2 linked regions of the Homo sapiens genome follow. The protein of the gene in region 1 interacts with the protein of each later gene in a pairwise test. Each region holds a gene or a part of one and is shown in the gene's direction. Other genes may lie near its edges.

Region 1 (3,500 bases):
TGGGAGGCTGAGGTGGGTGGATCACCTGAGGTGAGGAGTTCAAGACCAGCCTGGCCACCATGGTGAAACCCCGTCCTTACTAAAAATACAAAGAGTAGCCTGGTGTGGTGGTAGGCGCCTGTAATCCCAGCTACTGGGGAGGCTGAGAAGGAGAATTGCTTGAACCCTGGAGGTGGAGGTTGCAGTGAGCTGAGATTGCGCCACTGCACTTCAGCCCAGGCGACAGAGCAAGACTTCTTCTCAAAAAAATTAAATTAAATAAAAAATTAATAATAATAAAAACTTAAAAAAAAATGAAACTTGTTTGCCATCCCACTATTCAAAGGAAAAATTGAAGCTCTGAAAAGTTAAGTGACGTCCGCAAGGTCGCACAGTTGATTAGTAGCAGTGGAAATTAGAATTCCCCTCTGCTCCTCATTGCCTCCTCTAGTACTGACTTCCCAGGATGGGCTATGAGCCTCTTCCATAGCATTCTTAAGAGTTTGGAAAGAAAATTTCTATCTTCCCTTTATAACAGTAAGAAAAGATAGAAGAAACCGCTTAGAATTCTGAATTGCCATGCTCCCACTTGGACGGGGCTGTAGGGTTAGTCTAGAAGCAGTCTCATGAACCTGGGCAGTGACTGTCTTGGAGTTCACACATAGAATCACAATGAGCCTAGCCCTTCTGTAAAATACAGTAACCCTGCAACAACCATAGGCTTATTGTATTGAAATTCTCATGGAAAATAGGGGGGTCACAGTTTCTTCAACAAATAAATTGCACAGGAAAGGTGAGATAGAGTGGAATAATCTAAAGATTAAGAGACTTTATAGAAAAATTCCTTAGGCTAATTAGCCATCGGGGAAATGCAAATTCACATTATAAGCGGATGTCACACTAGACAGCTATCAGAATGGCCTGAAAAGAACGGAAAAGAACCAAGTGTGGGTGAGAGAGGAACTAGAACTCTCATATTCTGCTGGTGGCAGTGTAACTTAATACAACCACTGTGGAAAACAGTCTGGCAATGTCTATTCATACTGAACATTTGTATACCCTATGAGCCAGCAGCTCCAACTCCTAAGTATGAATCTAACAGAAATGCACTCATATGTTTACCAAAAGGCATGTACTAGAATGTTCACAGCAGCACATTGACCCAAACTGTAGAATACCCAAATGTCCATTCCTAGCTGAATGAATGAAGTCTGGTTTATTCACATGTAGGCATACTACATAGCAAAGAGAATGAATGTAAGTGCTCACACACATAATTTGAGTGAAAGAAGCCGGTCACAGAAGAGGACAGATTCTCCTACGTGTTTCTCTGTATGTTAGGTTTGGTTTTTAAAGTGTTTAGACCAGCTCTTAGTGGCCTGAAATGTAATATCTTTTGTGTTTGCATCAGCTTTTATTTCCTTTTCATAACTCTCAGAAAAACACCTGGCACATGCTTTTGGGCTCATGTTTCTGGGTGTAGAAGTCTATTAATTGAGAGGATGGAGTGCAGAAATACAGATCACCTTTCTCTGCCTTTTCCTCTGCCCAGACCACCTGGTCTGCAGAAGGGACAGGTAGCACCAATTTCACATACATGAAAATGCCAGACTTTAAAATGATGTTCTATAAATATGAAATGTTGATTGCTATGAGATTACTGCACATTCGACAAAAGCCGTGCACACCCACAAATAGCTTGCTTTGCTCTCTAAGATCCTATCAACGGAGTGTACTTGGCCTGTATTTAGACAAAGCCGGTGGTGTTGTTTACATCTTTGGCAGCTTGCTCAGTGTGGCTTTTCTATGAACAAAATGTGTGCCCAGCCCGGTGGGTCTGGCTTCTCAGCCAAGCGATTGTGTATTGATTGGTGGTGGGAAATGAGATATCTTTTCAGTTGGTCCATGTCCAAAGAAAAAAGTGCCTAATTGGACATCTGAGATGATATGGAAAAAATGAGAGCCTGCTGCTCTCATAGCAGGGGATTTCTGATGTATTCTCTGTAGTGCCTACCTTGGAATACAGTTCTGTGGTTTTCTTTGAGCAAAGCTGGCACTTGTCCCTTCTCACAGACCTAGGCAGGACATGATGTGTGGCTTTGATAAATTAAGGTTTTTATCCTATAAGCTGGATCCTTTCTCTCAGTGAGTACTATATTCTGTATCCTATCTCCATTAATGGCACTAATCTATGCAACCAAAACCTGGAAACCTGGGTCTCAGCCTGTGTCCCCCTTTCCTCCTCCTACCTAGTCTCCAAATTCCACTGATTCGCCCTCCTTCGGGGAGGGAGAATAGCTCCCCAAACCATTTCATTCTCTGTCCCCACCACCTATGAATCGCACCGGCCACTCTAAAGCAGTTCCACTAGCAGCTTTCACTGCCTTCTCTTCTAACCTCAGACATCTGTCAGAGAGCTTTTTCAAACTAGATCTGATGGAGTTTACTTACCTGCTTAAAATCATTCTGCAGCTTCCCATTGCCTACAGAATGAAGACCAAACACCCTGGCCCTCACTGCCCTTCAGAACCCGGCCCCATTCATCCCCCACCTTTCCCCTCTTCCTGCCATAGTATTCAGCCATTGACAGTTTTCTGGAATATACCATTTTTATACCTCAGTACCGTTTCATGTGTTCTGCCCAAAATATTCTTCCTCATCTTTTTCTAAACAGCAAACATTTTATCATTTAATATTCAACTTCTATAACCTCACCACGTCACCCTCTGGAAAAGTTGCTTTCTTCTGTTTGCTTGCACTGTGCCTTGTACATATGTCTGTCAGCATTTATCACACTAGAATGAAATGATCTACTTCCATGTCTGCCTTCCCTACCTGACCAGGAGCTGAAGAAGGCTAGGGATTCCACTCTATCCTTAGCTTTTCCTACACAGGGCTTATTAACCCTAGAAGGCCCCCAAATTTTGCTGTGTGAGTGAATGAAATCTCACTGGGCATAAGACCATCACCTCCAATTCTGATATTCATGGAGTATTATGGACCATTAATTATTCAAGATTCAAGTGAGGATAATAACCTGGAGAAATTGTACTTTTAATCTTGATAATTATGGTGTCTTAATACCTTTCCTTCTTCTAGGATTATGAATTAAAGTAACTACCTTGAATCTTTTGTGCATTAAAGCATAGTTGGACCCAAAAATCAGGTCTTGTCACTTGCCATTCCTCTATAATAGCCCCCTTTATTCATTTAACACTTTATATACTTTCTCTGTCTTCCTCACAAGTGGTCCTCTGAAGTACATGTTAGTCTGCTTTAAGAATGGGAAACTGAGGTTCAGGATGTTCAGTAACCTCTCTGAGGACATTCGGCTGGTAAATGTTAGATTTGGGATTTGAACTCAAGTCCATTTGACTCCAGAACTCCTGTTCTGTCTACTACTCGAGTGATCTTCAAACTTTTTTGCCTGTGAAACCCCTTACAGAATTTAGAAAAACTATAAAGTCCATCAAACATTTTAAATCGGCATGTAAAAATTTTTCATCTTGAATTTATGTACT
Region 2 (3,500 bases), on another chromosome or scaffold:
ATGGCCATTCAGGTGTAGTCCCAGCTGTCTGACTCTGGCTCAGGAGCAAGGGCTTCTGTATAAACAAGTAAGGGGGCAGGAGATCCTGCAGGAGGCCTTGCCTGCTGATCGGCACATCCTTAGGGCCACGCAGTGAAAACACCCTCTCAACATCCCTTTGGAGATAACTGGTGAAGTGCAGTTGGCTACTCCTTCTTCCCTATAGGGCTTCCTGCCTCTCACGACTTTGCAGCTCAGCCCAGCAGGTTGCCTGTGGCCACAGGGGCTCAGGCTCATCCTCACTGTCCCTTGCCCCAAGGATTCTTGGGAACCATAACAGAGGCCCCAAACTCCCCACCCCAGCCCCACAGTGGCTGTCACGGTTCATAAAGTGGCATTTTGTGTCGCTAAATGCTTCATTTACAGTTTTCCCAATATTACATAACACCATTCCAATTAAGAAAAACCTGCTGACTTTGCAGTCCTGTTTCAGGAGTGTCCCTTCTTTTCACCTCTCCGCTCAGAACATCCTAACTAAGCAGATAGCTATAAACAGACTGTCTTGTGGTTTGACACCACAGAGAGTGCCTTTTCCGCAAATGTCTCCTCCTCCTTCCTGCTCCTCTTTGGCTCATCTCTGGGGACTCTCACCTGTCACTTGCGATTCCATCATTACCTGTGGCAGGGCCATGGTGATCTCCAAACCTCCCGGTGATGTCTCCAAAAGGGCATGGTTGACAGCAGCCAGGTGAAGAGGAGGAGGGGTCGGGATGTTGGACTGCACGCCACCCCTAGGTTTGGATTGGGCTGTGGCAGGCCAGAATGTGGCTGCATTTGTCCAGCATTTTTTATTTTTTATTATTTTTTAATTTTTATTTAAAGATGGGGTCTCACTGTTTTGCCCAGGCTGGAGTGCAGTGGTGCCATCGCTGCTCACTGCAGCCTTGAACTTGGCTCAAGTGATTCTCCCACCTTAACCTGAGTAGCTGGGACTGCAGGTGTGTGTCACCATGCCCGGCTATATTTTTTTTTTTTAATTTTAAAATTTTTTGTAGAGATGGGGTTTCACTGTGTTGCCCAGGCAGGTCTTGAACTCTTGGGCCCAAGTGACCCTTCTGCCTCAGCCTCCCAAAGTTCTGACATTTAAAAATGAGCCAGGCTTTGTGCTCAGAGCTTTGTACGTATCGCTCAATTTATAAGATAAATACTATCCTCACTCACATATGAAAAATGAACTGAATCTGAGAAGTTAGATAATTTTCCTGAATTCCAGCTATTAGTGTCACAGCTGTAAGTAGTACATCTTGAGTCCGATTTCAAAGACTGAACTCCTTTTTCCTTTTTCTTTTTTTGAGGGTATCACTCTGTCTCCCAGGCTAGACTACAATGGCAGGATCATAGCTTGCTGCAACCTTGAACTCCAGGCTCAAGGGATCCTCCTGCCTAAGCCTCCTGAGTAGCTGGAATTATAGGCATGTACCACCATGCTCGGCTAATTTTTGTATTTTTCTGTAGAGACAGGGTTTTGCTATGTTGCCCAGGCTGGTCTTGAACTCCTGGGCTCATGTGATCTACCCGCCTCAGCCTCCCAAAGTGCTGGGATTACAGGCGTGAGCCACCGTGCCCAGTAGCTCTTAACTGCTGGCTATCTTAGAAAACCTCTAGAAAAGTCTTCATCAAAGTGTGGGGTAAGGAAGGGAGGAAGGTGTGCTTTTTAAAAATGCAGATTCCTGGGCTTATAGCTACCTATTCAAACTTTCCAGGGCTGGGCTCTGCGTTTTAAACAAGCTCTCTGGACAATCTTGGTGCACACCTTGGTGGCTCTGGAGCATTCTACTTGGTTCTGCCTTCCCTCCCCTTTACATCCCCAGTGTCCGCAGACTCTGTGGGGTGCTCTGGGATGTTTACTGCTCCAGCCTGCAGGGAGCCTGACGGTCTTTGAAGCCTCCGGAGATTTCTACGGTGCCCAGTGGGTTCACCTAAGTCTTTCTGACTCCAAGTCTGAACTATTTAACAACCAAAGGCTTGTCAGATGGGTTTCTGTCTTGGGAGACCTACAGAGTGTGGACAAAGCCGCCGTGGGCTTAGGGACTTGCCACCTTGGAGGTTAGGTTTTTTCCCTGCAGTGTGCTCAACCCTGCTTTCTTTGTGGAGCCACAGACTTCCCCTTCTGCAGAGTCATGGGCTGAGTGGCCTGTCCCCAGAGACAGCACTGTCTCTCCTCTAAGCCAACAGAATGAGACCATTGTTTTCATTAGCTCCTGCCCCTTTAGCCTGGGATCCACCTCAGTGTGGATGAAGACAGAGGCGAGACTTTCCCTCATTTCAGTTTTGTTGCAGTAACTGCTGGAGCCGAGGCGTCGCAGGGAAGAAGCCATATGAGTTCACAGGGAGGGAAGCGGCTGTGCGTGCTCCGCTGCGGGGGTGGGAGGGGGTGGGGTAGGGAGGTCTTGGCAGCTCCTCTCGGTTAGATGGGTGTGATTGTTCTGTAACCGAGTGTGTTCCAGACAGTCTGTTTGACTGTTTGTCCTCTAATTCATTACTTCAGTTTGGCCCTGCCTTCATGATACATGTGTTAATCACTCTGTTTCTAAAACAAAATTGGAAACAGTTCCTGCAGCCTCACTGGGACCCTGGGTGGCCGCCACGGGCACCCACATTCTTTGTTGAATCTGGCCCCTTGGTGCTCTTTGGGGCTGCTTAAAAGACTCTGTTTCTCCCACCTTAGGAGCTGCCAGCCCCTCAGATCCGGAGCTGGTGGAGAGCACAGCAGCGTCAGCGCAGGCCACCGTGGGAGGGAGGGAAGGGGACTCGTGTATGCAGAGCCATGTCTGAACTGAGCTCAGGGCTAGAGACCCACACAACAGCGGGGAAGACGGGGTTGATAGTTTATAGTTTGAGCTCCCTGAGGGGCTCCTGAGGACTTCGGAGAGGTTAAGAAATGTGTCTCAGGTCCCTGCTAATAATTAGCAACATCTGGCTTCAGAGCCTGTGCTCTTTCTTCTATCCTGTTTGAACCGCATGGCACCCATCACCCCACTTCTCAGGTTGCCTTGTGGACCAGGTGATATTTGAGGGTTGTGTTAGAAGGGGACTAGCTAATGCAGATACTAATACTAGCTAGTGAGCCCAGTGTGAACAGTGTCTGCTCTGTAGAAAGATTTTTTTCCGACCTGAAGTAGTAGGACCACCCTCCTGCGTGGTTATTCTGGATCATGCCTGTTCCTCCTCAGGTTTATTTCTCTCCATCTATGTTATTTATGATTTACTTGTTCCTTGACACTGGAGACCATGTTGGTTTCATTCACCTCTGCGTCTGCAGTGTCCTGGCCCGTGCCTGGCACTCACTGAATCCTCGTGGTTTGTTGTTACAGCTTAGCTGTATGCTTCCTCAAGGCAGGAATTGGGGCTGCACACTCACCATTTTCCCCAGCACTGAGAATAGTGTCTGGCATAACGAATGAAAGTGAGTAAACAAAGGTATCCACTTGAGGCTTAGTACTGTTATGCAAAAAGCACTG

What was found.
Region 2: the proteins of STOM (region 1) and CNIH3 interact in binary tests that used the Homo sapiens proteins (3 or more experiments, as listed by UniProt).

The regions. Positions count from the first base shown.
Region 1 is NC_000009.12:121,342,751-121,346,250, reverse strand, and holds part of STOM (stomatin), read left to right. Parts: intron 1-3,500. UniProt on the Homo sapiens protein: Regulates ion channel activity and transmembrane ion transport. Regulates ASIC2 and ASIC3 channel activity.
Region 2 is NC_000001.11:224,734,817-224,738,316, forward strand, and holds part of CNIH3 (protein cornichon homolog 3), read left to right. Parts: intron 1-3,500. UniProt on the Homo sapiens protein: Regulates the trafficking and gating properties of AMPA-selective glutamate receptors (AMPARs).